Homo sapiens: one gene and its partners. The protein of the gene in region 1 purifies or fractionates together with the protein of each later gene. This does not show direct contact. Each region holds a gene or a part of one and is shown on either strand. Other genes may lie near its edges.

Region 1 (3,968 bases):
GGTTTACATCTCAAATTAGAAGCCATTAATTAGCATGACGAAGTCAACTGCAAGATACACAGATTATTTAAATTATTTAATCACTATTCACCTTGGCTAAACTGTAGTATACTCTTTCAATATCCTTAGGCAGGTTATCGATCTGTCACTAAATTACCTCCAGATCAGTTAGACATGAATATTAGCGTCCTTTCCTTTCCCTCAGGTTTACATTCTCCCTTCTCGTAAACACTTAAAAAAGCTTTAAGGTTCTTTAATTCCAAATACCTAATTAGCCATCACTAGCCTTTTTGTAATAAGGAAAAAGAGTATCTGAAGTACAAATCAAGAGTTCGCTTTGCCCGTTTAACAATAAAAAACATTTAAAAAACGTACGCCAAAGGCAATGGCAGTAATAAAAGAAATATGCAGAGGTGGCTTCAGCAAATAACGGGTTTGCAAAACGCAAGTGCTTAACAAAAAGCAGCCCAAACCTCTATTGCAATATACAGCACTCCAATAAATTACACAACACTTGCATAGGCTGCAGAAATAACGCAGGACAAGACTTACACAGATGCCAATCCGCAGCATTTATACACATGCACATGGCAAGAGACAGAAACCAAACACTATCATTCAACTCGGGAAGGGTAGCGCGATCCCGAGCTTGCCCAGCGTGAGAGTGCTCTCTGCGTGTGTGTCTGTGTACGCGCGTGAGTGAGACCCATCCTTGGGGCATTTCCCCTCTCTGGGCAGTTTTGCTTCATTTGTTTCATATTTCTGCTACATAGAAACTAACTTCCATCTCAGCTCCAGCCAGCGCCGCTGAATAGAGCCTGTGCTGCGGCTCCGTGTGCGTCAGATCCCTCCGCGGAACCGTCCCCGGCCCCCTCCCTGCCACTATCGGCCTCCACAGAGAAAGCGCCTTCCAGCCAACCGGCGGCTTGGGCTCCGACATCTTCTCCGACTGGAAATAAATAAATAAATCGCACGCCCTGCGGGGAGGAGCGGGTGGGGGTCTCACTGTGCCGCGTGCGGAGCGCTGGGGACGAGGGGTCGGAGGCACTCCTTTTTTAGCGCCGGGGGGCGGGGGCGCGGGCCAGAGCCGGGGCCGAGCCCTGGGCCGCGAAGGCGGCGGACTCCTTTCTGCGGCGGAGGGATCCGCGGCGGAGGCGGCCACGGCCGTAGTCGCTGCCTGAGAGTTGTTGTTTCCTCCTCCTCCTCCTCCGCCTCCGCCGCCGTTGCTTGAATGGTGGAGCCGAAGCTCGGCTCGTGAACACACACTGACAGCTATAGGGCAGGCGGCGGCACCGTCCCCGCTTCCCCTCGGCGGCGGGGTGTCCCGTCGGCGGCCCTGAAGTGACCCATAAACATGTCTTGTGAGAGGAAAGGCCTCTCGGAGCTGCGATCGGGTAAGTCGGGGGGCTGCCGGGGCCGCTGGCACCGGGCGATTCCGCCCGCGGTCCCCCGCCCCCCGCCGCCCGACCGCTCAGCCTGTGTGTCTCCCCGTCCCTCTCTCCCGCGCAGAGCTCTACTTCCTCATCGCCCGGTTCCTGGAAGATGGACCCTGTCAGCAGGCGGCTCAGGTACGGCGGCGCGCGGCGCGGGCCGGGCCGGCGCTCGCCGCTCGCGGGCGTGGGGGAGGGAGGCGGCGGCGGCGGGGCCGCGGCCCGGGGCGCGGGGCTCAGCTCTCCCCGCTTTGTTGTTGCAGGTGCTGATCCGCGAGGTGGCCGAGAAGGAGGTAAGGGCGGCGGCGGCCCGGCGCGTCCCGCCGCCGCGCGGCCGCCTCTGGGCCGCTGCGCCGCCGCTGCCGCCGCCGGCAGGGCGCGGGGCGCGGGGCTCGGGGTCCCCGCCGGGGCGCGGGGCGGGCGGGGGAGGGGAGCGGGCGGGTAGGGGCCGGGGGCCGGGCTCACGGGGTGTCCTCTCCCCGCAGCTGCTGCCCCGGCGCACCGACTGGACCGGGAAGGAGCATCCCAGGACCTACCAGAATCTGGTGAGACATTCACGTCGCAGAGCAAAGAAACTTTTCCCTGAGTCGAATAAAAATTGAATTTCCCGCAATTTTTTACAGAGACAAAAACTTGGCCCTAGAACGTGAAAGCTCCAAAGGCCATGGGGAGGGTTGGGAGGCCGGCGCGGGGTCTGCGGGGGCCAGTGGCCGGGGGTACTCGTACTTCGGGGCCGCAGGGGCTGCGGACAATTTATTTGTGATATTTTGTTAATGTGCTAGAAATAAAGATACGTCATGAGTGTTGTGCAGTGCAAGGCCGGAGGAGGAGGGGCCGGCGCGCGCGTCCGTGCGGGCGCGGGGGCGCGCGAGAGTCGGCGGCGGCGGGAGCGGCGCGAAGAGGGAGAGCGCGCTCGCTCGTTCGCTTGCTCGCTCTGCACGCGCGGCCGGCTCGGCTTTCTCCTGCCCTACACAATAGCTGGTGACTAACTGCTCCGAAGTGGCATTAGCATTTCACAAGCAGGCTATCCAGCCGCTGCGGTACCGTGGCAAGACATTATTTTTTCCCCCTCTGTCGTTTATTTTGTTTTCCTTAAATTCAGTCCTGGGTTTTTTGTTGGAAGGATTCTGATGTGTGATGATAGTTGGTCAGTGCTTCGTCTTGCATTTACTAAAACACATCTTTGCAGAAGTGTAAAGCCTGTAATTCCCTAAAACCAGAAGTTTAGTAGGCTTTTTTTAATTCTTATGGTATGCCTCTCGTTTAATTAAAAATTATTATTGGAGTACACTGAAGAGTTTTGATTTTTGTCCACATATTTACTGTGGGATGGAACTTGGCCTATGAAAGTTGTGTTTATATTGGGACATATTTTGTTTAATAGCTTAAAAACCTTAATTTTGTGGGTTGTCAAAATGAGTATTTTAGGAATCTTTAAAAATTGCTTTTCAGAAGTGGATTTATCACTTCAGTATTGTGATTGGAAGTTACTTTAAAGGAGCTATATTTTCTGTAACACTTTCTCCTAAACTGATACAGGTTCGTTGTGTGAATATGTGTGTGGGGCAGTTAAAGCAGTCGCACCGGACCCACCAAGCCTTTGAAATTTATGTAGTGTGTTGATTTTATGAGGCTTTTGTAACTGTTTTGAGATAGTTATGATTACTAATGTTACTTCATCAGAACTTCTCTAATGACTAGGAAGTTTCAGCGAGCTTAGAATGAGTGTCTTTTGTGAGGTGAAAGCAGGACATGATTATAATGGCGCTTTTTTTGGTATGTAGTGTATTTCCTAACTTTTGTGTATAAATCTCTTGTGGTTTAATATAAGATGTTGATAACCGCTCAAGGCTGTTGAAATAAGCAAGGGTACTGAGGTTTAATACATCTAATGGAGATTTAACAGTGTATTAGTGTATTCATTTTCACACTGAACGTGTGTTAATTTTCAAGGAGTGATTTGGGTTACTTTCATTCAATTCTTGGCCAAAGTGAATGGAGCTGGAAGTAAACTCCAAGATTTACTAATTTGAAATTAATTTTTAGGTTTACAAATACTTGATAGAAGTCTTCAGTGAATTTACATGTCTTCCTTGATATTTGAAAAAATTATCGCAAAGATTATAATACTCCATTTTTAAGATGGGGCAGGTTTTACAAAACTCGTCTTTGCATCTGCTTTTACATCTGTGCATCTCTTAAAAACCCACAAACCTTAAGTCACTGAGGAATGCTGCATTTTCTTAATCTTTTGGTAATGTTACATTTTTTAAATGAAGCAGCTTAATGTTATCTGGCTAAATTATGGTAATGGCTAATCCTCGTAGGAATATCATTTTGTTTTTTTGTTTTTTTTTTCAGTAAAAATGAGCTATCAATTTTGATTTTGAGTTAATTTAATTTTTGGGGGGAGGGTGGGGGGAGGAATTATTAGTAAAGTGAATTTCTATCCCTAGTCTGCATCGCAGATTTAAGATACAGTAAGCATTCTTTCTATCTATGTATTATGCTCAAAATTCACCTATTTTGAATGGAAGT
Region 2 (3,500 bases), on another chromosome or scaffold:
AACAAATGACAGCTGGTGGGGTCAGGCCCATTGTGTTTAATATGAGTAATAAATAGGCCACACATATTTGCAGGAGTTCTCGTCATCCACGAAGCTGCATGAGGGAGCTCAGTAGGCTCTTCCTGGGCTGTCTAGTATGGTAGCTACTAGCCACATGGGGCTCTTTCCATTTACATTTATTAAAGTTTAATTTTAATAAAAATCAAGTAAAAACAGCTCTTTGGTTGTGCTAGCATATTGCAGAAATTCTGCTGGACACTTCTTCAGATCTACACCAGCGTATCCCAACTGGTGTCACCTAAAATACTCAGCTTCACTGGTATTGCTAAGGACTTCTCTCCCTCTTTGAGGTTGACAAGGCCTGATGGGCGATCAAAGCCTATAGGTGAGACATCACAATGAAATAAATGTCTTGACTCAGGGTTTCTCACACTCCCTCAGGTAGGTAACCCCTTTTTGAGCCTGTAAACACCCATGTAGCAGCCTTTGGAAAAGAGACCGCTGCCAGAGATATCTTACACTGCATCCTAAGTGAATTCACGCAGGACTCACCGTGTGTTTCGGTTCATGGTAAACATACCATCTACATAGAGGAAGAAACGGTGCCCACGCATCCTCTGTGTTACTCCTGCTAGATGTGGTTCCTGGGTTGCTCTGGTTTTCTGAAGGTCTTCTAAGACGTTGTTTTTTTCCTTGCAGTTGAATCTGGTATCAAGTGTCACTCTCTCCAAGTCCGCATCGGAGGCTTCTCCACAGAGCTTACCTCATACTCCAACGACCCCAACCGCCCCCCTGACTCCCGTCACCCAAGGCCCCTCTGTCATCACAACCACCAGCATGCACACGGTGGGACCCATCCGCAGGCGGTACTCAGACAAATACAACGTGCCCATTTCGTCAGGTAGATACTCCACCTTTTGCCTCACGTAGAGTTGTAATCTGCAATTCTTGTAGACCAGCCCCTTTTGAAAAAGTGATAATTAATAGGACAATGATTCTTATTCAGCAGATATTGCGCAGAACCAAGAATTTTATAAGAACGCAGAAGTTAGACCACCATTTACATATGCATCTTTAATTAGGCAGGTAAGTAAATAACACAGTATATGAAATTCTGTCAGAAGGTATATGTGTACATGGATATATATTGATGAAGTAGATTTAAAAACCGTTTAGTATGCAAGCATGCTGAAACCTTTTCTATAAGGTTTTTTAAAACTGCAATATATAACATAATTGCTTTTGATTAAGTATTACAATACGATGTGATTATTAGGAAATTCATTTCACACAACAGTGAAAATGAGCCTGTTTAAAGATGGCAAGTCAATTATCACAAGCTACAGTAATCTCTGATCCCTAGAATTAATCTGAGCTCTAAATAATTACTGAGCTTTAATCAGCTAGTGAAATGTTTTGCATTTCTCTTTGATTCTGCTTTATGAATGACTAATAAATTAATATTTCTGTACGGAAACAGAAATAAAAACTCAAAACAATTAGATAATTCCATTTTGAATTTTGCTATTGAACTGTTAAATACAACCATTAATCTTAGATCATTTTGTAAAACCTTTCTCAGGATTTAGCTCTGAATCACAGTGATTTTATATTTTCGAGAAACTGTGGAATGACGACTCTGCTGATTTGGTCATAAATTATCTTCTGTTACATTCTGCTTCACAGGCCATTCTCGAATCTCCAGAAAAGCAGCTAACACTAAATGAGATCTATAACTGGTTCACACGAATGTTTGCTTACTTCCGACGCAACGCGGCCACGTGGAAGGTAAGCTTTCTCAGGCCTGTTTATTCTTGGATCTTGACGTTCATAGAACAGTTTGTTGTTGATAAAATGCAGTTGTGCTATAAGGAAGCTACATTTATATTGTTTTGATACTCTTAAAGTGTCCAATCTCTAGGTGTATTTGATTGGGAAAATAGTGCCATTGTGGTTGAAATGCTCTGATGGAAGACTCCCATTATACCAGCATCAGCAGTGTGGAGGGGCCAGCCAGTAAAGTGATCTCTCTCTGGTTGGAATATGTAGAGAAAAGGAGACAACACCGTCGCCCAGAAGTGGAGGTTGCCATATTACTTGCACAAACCTCATGCCGTTAGGTCTTCAGCCACAGCCGATATTTGCAGAGATGTATCTCCAGCGATCTATCTCCAGAGATGGAACCTGGAGAAATGACCAAACTTGACACAGCCTTCAATGGTTGGATAAATAGCTCATTAACCCAATTAGTAGAGAAAGCTGTGCAATCCAAGCACTAGCACTGTTTGTAGGAGTTATTAATGGAGAACACAATGTATTATTAAGGGGCAGGGGTTTTTGTTTTTCTTTTTTTGGTTTTAAGTCAAGAGATTGTCGGCCAGGCACAGTGGCTCATGCCTATAATCCCAGCACTTTGGGAGGCTAAGGCAAGAGGATCACTTGAGCTCAGGAGTTAGAGACCAGCCTGGGCAACGTAGCGAGACCCTGTCTCTACAAAAAAAATTCAATGAATTAGCCAGGCATGGTGGCATGCACCTGTGGTCAACAGCTACTCCAGAGGCAGAGGTGGGACGATTGCTTGAGGCAAGGAGGTTGAGGCTGCAGTGAGCCCTGTTCATGCCACTGCACTCCAGCCTGGGCAACAGAGCAAGACCCTGTCTCAAAAAAAAAAAAAAAAAAGGAGATTGTCCCTCATAGATATACTAAGGAAGAAAAGTAGATTTCGAACTTCATTATATTCATTATAATACTATTTGCTGTAAAAACAAGTCAAATTGCATAGCTCTTTATTGGATGCCCCCAGTAGTGCTTGGGGTCATATATGGCTTACCTCATTCCCAGGTCAGCAGCTGGCTCAAAGATTCCACTGGTATTTACTCCCTTATATTAGATTGATCCCTCACATATTTTTGGGCTTTCCCATTTTTGATTTCTTGGTGTCTAATATTCTTGCTTATAGAAGGGGACAGGTACACTCTGTCATTTGTATTTTTGCATTTTTTACTACCTGGAATTCTTGTAATCCCTGAAATCCAAAACATTTAGAGACATGTGATAACAAACATTTGAGGCTATTTTTACATGCCATTAATCTAAATATGATAAGGATGTGTTATAGGACACAAGGAAAACTTCCTTCGCCTGAAATAAATGCCTTCCTTGCTAATTCCTTAATTTTATACCGGAGAAAAACCAAAGCAAAAGACAGAAAAATACATTTCCTCTGTTAAGTTCCTGATAAATTAGCATTTTAAAAGAAAACGAATATAACCATAGAATTAATTCATCAACTTTACAGAGCTGTGAATATCCATTATGGCCCAAATTATCCTTTCATTTCCATTAAGACACATGGGCACTGAAGGGAACCTATGTTCAAAATCTTACCCTCTTTGCCTCAGCCTGCCTTGGAAGATAAAATATGAAAGGATCTTTAGCCATGAATGCTTTAAAAAATTTAGGAAGTCGAAGCATGAGGCAGACATTTTCTTCAGATTGCC
Region 3 (3,500 bases), on another chromosome or scaffold:
TTGCATTTAGGGGCTGTGAAATTGGAACCAGGCCCTGAACTAATTGAATTTCACGCTCCACCATTGTCTTACGCCGGGAGCACCTTCTGTCCCACCAGTCACCCGGGGGCCGCCTGGCCGAGGTGTGGCTGGGCTCAAGCACACACATACTCGCTCACACACACACACACACACACACAGCCCCCTGCCACGTCTGTCAGGCGGACCCCGCGCCCCGACCCTGTACCCCAGACCCACACGCAGCCATCTGATTGATGGGGGTGACACGGTGCCCGCTCCAGCAGGCGAGGTGTCGGCAGCGTCCCTGAATCCGAGGAGCTGGGTCCGGGGTGGCAGGAGGGAAGGGGTTGGGTGGGGGCAGTGGGTGGGTTCGGGGTTGACTTTGAATAGCAAGGGGCACTTTCTCGAGCGGTGTGAAATGAGCAATAAATGTATTGGGGCTAACAAGAGAGCTGAAACAGTGACAAAGAAAAGCTGTTCAAAGTTGGCGGCTAATCCCCCACCCATCTGCCCGGCTCATTACCATGGAGCGAGCCATCGGGTGCCAATCAGGCCTCAATAGCGGCTTTCGAGGCTTTATTAGCCAGGCGCCGCTTGGAGGGGCTTCACTCAAGGCGCTGTCAGCCTCGCCATTCTTAACCCCCATTTCCAGGGGTTTTATAACTTGGTTGTAAATTGCTATTAAATGTAAGTCTGCCCAATAATGAACCTTAAGCCCCTCTCACCACCCCCCGCCTCTCCTCTCTCCCTTTCTCTCCCTCCCCGGTCCTATTATCGGCCTTCGCTGGGGCCTTAGATGGGGCCTGCCCGGGAGAAGAGGTGACATTGTTGGTGCTGCTGCTGGAGAAAGCCTCTTAGCCTTTAAAATAGTTAATAATTAGATTAAAACTTCAAATAAATTAACTAGAGAGTGAATGGGCACTAGCCAGGGGAGGGTTCCTCCGGTCTTTTTTTCTTCTTCCAGACAGTCCCCAAATCATGACAATAGGTCACGTTTCTTCTCCAGCTCAGCCTGCGGAGCTGCCCTGGTCCTCGGGCAGGGCTGCCAGAGCCTGGTGCCCAGGACCCTCCGCAGCCTGCCACCCGCCTCCCACCCTCACGGCTCTCCAGGCTCCTGGGAGCCCTGTGCAGGGAGCCAGGAGGTGCTGCTGGGGCCACTCCCACCATCTTCTCAGAGATGATCCTAAAGGGAGGCTCTGTGCCTGCAAACAGGCCTGGGGGCCCGGCTGCCTTTGGGGTCCTCTTTGGCCCCCCAGTAGGTTGGGACAGATGAAGGGGAGCAAGGAAGACAGTCGCTGGCTTGGCCAAGCTCTTGGGAAAGGCCCAGAAGAGGCAGATTATTAAAGCACTTAGCCTCCGACACCCCATTCCACATACCATGCCGGGCACCTGTGAGCATCATGCCTGTGGTCCGTTTTTTGATGAGTGCACCCAAGGCCCAGCATGGTGAAGCTGGCTGTCAAGGTCACACCAGCAAGGGGGAGAGGGGGATCTGCAGCTCTGCCTCCCCACCGGCCTGAGGCTTCCCCACCCTATCCTCCTTTCTGTGGTAGCCGGGGTAAGAGCCGAGCGCCAGAGCCGGGCCAGGCCTCTCCACGAGCCTCTCTCCCTCTCATCCCAGCTCCAGTGTGGGCAGCCACTTTGTGGACGAATGGGCCAGCCCCCCGCCTGGTCCTTGGGTGCCCCTGTGCCCAGCACCACCTCCTCCAGGAAGCCTCCCTGATCACTCCAGCCTCCTGAAAAGGTACCCCTTCAGGCCCTCTGAGCCCGCCCTCTGAGCCCTCCCTCTGAGCCCAGGCGGGCATGCCTCGCTTCTCCATCCTTCCTCCAGGCCAAGAGATGCCCTCTCCCAAGCTCAGGCACCCAGGCACTCAGGCCAGGTCAGCAAACGCTTCTTGTTGACAGCAGTGAGAAGGAGGGAGCGATCAGGACAGCCTCCACTGCCGAGGGGAGCAAGAGTGGCCGCAGCTTTGAACGTGGGGTCAGCAGGGTGAGGCCCAGAGCGGCTCAATGAAGACTGGCGAAGGCTTTCCATGTGGGGTCCCAGGGGTCCATGAGGCCAGCTCGCCAACACTCACCGTTTACTGAGCACCTTCCGGGGTCAGGGCCCAGGGCTGGACGCTCCCTTGCAGGCCTCATTCTACCCCAGGAAAACAGCAGGCACTCTTTCATCCTCAGATACAGCTGAGGAAACTGAGGCCCAGGAAAGTTGAGTGGCTGTTCAGGGACTAGAGCGCTCTCATTCCAGACCTGGTGCCCATGAACCCGAGTGATGGGTAGCCGAGGGCATGTTCCTCCCAAGCCTAGAGGCATCCATGGTCCATGGGTTGTACTGTCCAGGGAGGTGGGCTGTGCGTTACCTTGAAGCCCCTGCCTGAACTCTAGCTTCCAGGAATGCAGGGCGGGGGTAAAGAGGGCCTAGGTTCCCAGGCAGGGAGGGGAAAGGAGCCAGGGCCCCAAAAGTCAACCCCCTTCGAGTCCCAACAGGTGGGCACATACCTTTTTTGAACTCGATCTCGAGAATGTCAGGGGTGTTGGGGGCTTTGGCTGGGTCCTGGGTCTTCGTGTAGAGACCTGGAGGCGCTTGGTTCTGAAAAAAGACAGAAAGTGGTGGGCAGATGACATACCAGTCCCTGGACACCCTACAGCCCACCTCCCGCGGGGATCTGCACCCCTCTCCTCTGTCCATTTCCCCACCAGCTGGTGGGGTCCGGCAGATCCCCCGGTCCCCAGCCCTCAGCCTAGCACCAGCCTCGCTTGCCAGAGGCCTGGGAAACAAAGGGCTGGAGAAATCAGACAATTTTTCCCCTCAACTTGATCTCATCTTTTTCTTCGACGCCCCCACAGCTGGAGGTAGAATAGCTGGAGAGGAACAAGTCAGGCAGGAAAAAGTGTGACTTTGGAGGAGCAAGGCGGCGTTCCGAGGGCTTCCCAGGAGCGGCACGCACGCTCTCGCCGGCTCGGGATTGGGGTTTATTCTGCACTGACCGCAAAGCTAATGACTGCCTGTGACCCCAGCAGGTGCTCTGGCAAGCCGAGCCGTCCCCAGGGTCCCCAAGGTTAATACTCACAGGGAGAAAAGAGAAGAGCAAAGCAAAAACCCATTTGAAAACACATCAACCTTTATGTATATTTTTTCTTGGGCGTGTTGGAAAATGGGCCTCTCGTCTGATGCAGTGGTGGAGGGGCTGCGTGTTGCCTGAAACTCTCGAAATTCCCTCCCACCTTCGGAGGCCCCAGCTCCCCCAGGCCGTGGCTTGGACATTTGCCACTGTGGGGACTGGGGCCTCTTGGGCCTGACTGCTCAGGTCCCTCCTGTGGGCATCCTGTGCCTGGGGTCCTTGTTCACCTGCTGACATCCAGGAACTGCTGTCTCATCTTTGCTTTAAAAACCTTGCAGACGGCTGGGCACAGTGGCTCACACCTGTAATCCTAGCACTTTGGGAGGCTGAGGTGGGTGGACTGCCTGAGCTCAGGAGTTCGACACCAGCCTGGGCAAC
Region 4 (3,500 bases), on another chromosome or scaffold:
CTGAACTAGGAAGGGCTTTTCTAATTTTCTCTGGAAAAGATCAAAACATATAGAGTATGAAACTAAGAAAATATGTCAGATACTATTCTTATAAAGGGCTAAAGTATTAACTTGTTTAATCCTCATGACAACCCTACAAAACAGCTACTATTATCAACACCATTTACAGATGAGAAACTAAGGTACACAGCAAGGAAGTGGAGGAGCCCGGGTTCCAGCCCAGGCAGTCCAGCTCCAGAATACAGGCTCTCAGCCACTACGCTGTGGTACTGGCAAATACATCAATTTGAAAGCTCTCCTCATTAATATTAGAAGAACAATTTGAAAGTGTGCTTTTTTTGCAAATGGATTCGTCAACATAGAACAGTTTTATCTTTATAAATTCTGTGAATAAGTGCAAGTATAGATTAATTCCACCTCCACATACACCTAAACTAAGAAATCTGACAAAGGTTTTAAAAAAATTTGATGAAAATATATTTCTTAAAGATCACCATGAATTACTGGCAATCATAGCGATCCAATATACTTTTTTCTCATCCACCTATTGAAAAAGGGAGGGCAGTGGCCAACTAAGAAAAGAAATTACCCTGGATACTAACAGACTTTTAAAGAACTTGGCTACAAAAGGTAGAGATAACCAAGGTATCCAATCAAAAGGAGCTAGCTAGGTGGGTCACAATAAATATGCTCTGGGCAACATTACATAATGCAGAAAATGATATTATTAATAGAAAGGCTACTTGGCAGCATGGAAATGCTGACAAAATATGTTAGGTAGCAAAAGACAAAATACCAAAGTGAATATTCACCATGATTACATAATTTTTAAAAAGGGAACTAAAATACTATTCTGTGGTAGTATTCATGAAAAGAAAAAAATTAAAAGAAAAAAACTCAAGCCAGGCATAGTGGCTCACACTTGTAATCTCAGTGCTTTGAGAGGCTGAGGTGAGAGGTTTGAGCTAAGGAATTTGAGACTAGCCTGGGCAACATAGTGAGACTTCATCTCTACAAGAAATTAAAAAATCAGTCGGGCATGGTGGCACACACATGTAGTCCCGGCTACTTGGGAGGCAGAGTCGGAAGGACTACTTTAGCCAGTTCAGGGCTGCAGTGAGTTATGATTCCAAGACCGCACTTCAGCCTGAGTGACAGAGCAAGATCCTGTCTCAATCGATAAGTTAAAAAGATACTAACCACATATAGTAAGTATAATTAAAAGAAAATGCTCCAAACAGTTAGTGGCAGCTGTGGTAAAATTATGGGCTACTGGGTATTTCTTTTATACAGATTTTTTCATTGATATTCTATTACTTATATCATTAAAATAAAACCGTGATATATTAGGTTCATAAGTTAAGAAACTATCTCAATAAACTATTTCTCTTTCCTCGAGATGACCAAAAAAAGTATTTTAATGTTCATGATACAAACCAAAATCGATATACTCATCAATTTCCCACACAATGTCAGGCACAATCCATTTATATTCACTAAGGTCCGGTATCATATCTTTCCACTGATCAAAAGTCTAAAAGACAAGAAAGTGTGTCAATCAGATGCTCTGCATGCCAAATAAACATGTAAAGAAAAATTATTTAATTAAAACACATTAATCTACTAAGAATAATGTATTATGTTCAAAACTTTTAAGAAACAAAATTAAGTGGTCTCAGCAAACAAGCATATAAAACAAGTTAACACTCCTCTGTTAAATATGGAAAATGTAAAAATTCAGAATATACTCCTATTTCAAACAGGTTTCATAATTTTGCCCTAAATATTACTGTGGGGTAGAAGGAAGACAGACTGGGAGACAGGACGCCTTGCCTCTGGTCCCAGACCTGCCAAGAAGTGCTTGTGTGAGAATGCCACCTGACTTTCACATCTGTGCTACTAAATGTCTAAGCTCAAAATCAAACCTAGGTGTTCCTATTCCCAGCCCTGTGCTCCTTCCACTAGGCCATTTTAATTTCCTGTAATTATAACTAAGATTCTAAAGGCATCTTCCTATTAGCATCATTAAAACAATCTAGTCCATGGTAGAGACACAAAATAAATGTTTAAACATCCAATTGTATTCCACTACACAAAAATGATTTATGCTATAGAAACTTAATCATGATATAATAATTGGAAAACCAGGAGGAATGTCAAGTTCACCTTTTTGGCTGTGTAGCCACCCCCAACAGCCGATCCTAGTATGAGATAGCGAAGTTTTAAGAGTCTCGTAGCTAATCTTGCTGGCCAAAAATTCCTGCGAGGCTGGTAGCCATATTTAATTGGAGAGAATTTCAGTTTACGTAAAGGAAGGTTTGTCAGAGAAGAGAACTGCTGAAAGGATGTCCTTAATTGGGGTCGTTGAAGCTTTAAGGTAGGATGATGTGAATGATAAATGCTTCGTGAAACCAGATGTAGTTTTTGTAGTGGTAAACTTCCTTTTATTCCAGAGCTGTGTTTCACTAAAGACTGGCAGACCTCACTGAAAGAAAAATGAATATGGAAGAAAGATCAGAGAGGGTAACAGTACAAAGGAAATGACATTAAAAGAGCAATATACTAAAGGAAACACAGCCCCATACGTGACTAACCACAATGTCACACAATAGTTCACATTTACTAACCATTGACTATGTGCCAGACATGGTTACAGTATGTGCTATCTCATTTAATCCTGCTAACAATCCCATGTAGAAAGTACTAGTATTATCCTCATTTTACAGATGAGGAAAATGTGGTGCAAAGACTTAAATAACTTGCCCAAAGTCACACTGACATAAGAAACAAAGGCATGATTCAAACCAAAGCAGTGGGACTCCACTCTAATATGTGGGCTATGATCCTGGTCTCAGGAATTGAAACCAAAGAGAGAAAAGGCAGGGACTTATTTTATTAACTACTATTCACTGTAAGTAAAAGTTGAAAACAAAAATGCATGCAAACTTTTGCTTTCAAAAACAAAATTTCTAGCAGTTTAGAACACCTTCATCTATGTCTCCCGATCCTGACAGCACAGGGGTGGAAATTAAGGAAGTTAATCAATCCCAACTCAAGCACCTGGATCCCCAGAAGAATGAAAGTAGCAAAAAAGCTCGAAAGGGAACAGAATTTAAATGTACACATTGACTGTAGAGCTCCACCCTCTTCTTCTTCCTGAAGAGAATGAAAGGTTACCAACAACCATATCTTAACATACACTCATAGTTGCATACATAGTTGCTTGCTTACTATTAGTTGCTTACTAATAATCAGGGCCAGTCTGATTCTAAGTAGTTAAAAAATATTAATTCCTTTAATTACAAGGGACTGGAAACTTCTTAAGAAGGAGGCAGGGTGTGGTGGCTCACACCTGTAATCCCAGCACTTTGGGAGGCTGAGGTGGGTGAATCACCTGAGGTCAGGAGTTCAAGACCAGCCTGGCCAACATGGTGAAACCCCATCCCTACTAAAAATACAAAAATTAGCTGAGTGTGTTGGTGTGTGCCTGTAATCCCAGC

The links. Proteins that work in one complex are often made in the same cells at the same time.
Region 2: the proteins of PHIP (region 1) and FOXP1 purify together in Homo sapiens (affinity purification with mass spectrometry, with the first as the bait; one large-scale study listed by BioGRID). This does not show direct contact.
Region 3: the proteins of PHIP (region 1) and ASS1 purify together in Homo sapiens (affinity purification with mass spectrometry, with the first as the bait; one large-scale study listed by BioGRID). This does not show direct contact.
Region 4: the proteins of PHIP (region 1) and OPA1 purify together in Homo sapiens (affinity purification with mass spectrometry, with the first as the bait; one large-scale study listed by BioGRID). This does not show direct contact.

Annotation. Positions count from the first base shown.
Region 1 is NC_000006.12:79,075,455-79,079,422, reverse strand, and holds the start of PHIP (PH-interacting protein), read left to right. Parts: upstream 1-1,168; 5' UTR 1,169-1,354; coding exon 1,355-1,394; intron 1,395-1,509; coding exon 1,510-1,568; intron 1,569-1,693; coding exon 1,694-1,723; intron 1,724-1,915; coding exon 1,916-1,975; intron 1,976-2,156; exon of another isoform or gene 2,157-3,968.
Region 2 is NC_000003.12:70,975,229-70,978,728, reverse strand, and holds part of FOXP1 (forkhead box protein P1), read left to right. Parts: intron 1-699; coding exon 700-901; intron 902-1,006; coding exon 1,007-1,086; intron 1,087-1,686; coding exon 1,687-1,788; intron 1,789-3,500. UniProt on the Homo sapiens protein: Transcriptional repressor. Can act with CTBP1 to synergistically repress transcription but CTPBP1 is not essential. Plays an important role in the specification and differentiation of lung epithelium.
Region 3 is NC_000009.12:130,475,961-130,479,460, reverse strand, and holds part of ASS1 (argininosuccinate synthase), read right to left. Parts: intron 2,591-3,500; coding exon 2,500-2,590; intron 1-2,499. UniProt on the Homo sapiens protein: One of the enzymes of the urea cycle, the metabolic pathway transforming neurotoxic amonia produced by protein catabolism into inocuous urea in the liver of ureotelic animals.
Region 4 is NC_000003.12:193,613,708-193,617,207, reverse strand, and holds part of OPA1 (dynamin-like GTPase OPA1, mitochondrial), read right to left. Parts: intron 2,486-3,500; coding exon 2,167-2,485; intron 1,535-2,166; coding exon 1,438-1,534; intron 31-1,437; coding exon 1-30. UniProt on the Homo sapiens protein: Dynamin-related GTPase that is essential for normal mitochondrial morphology by mediating fusion of the mitochondrial inner membranes, regulating cristae morphology and maintaining respiratory chain function.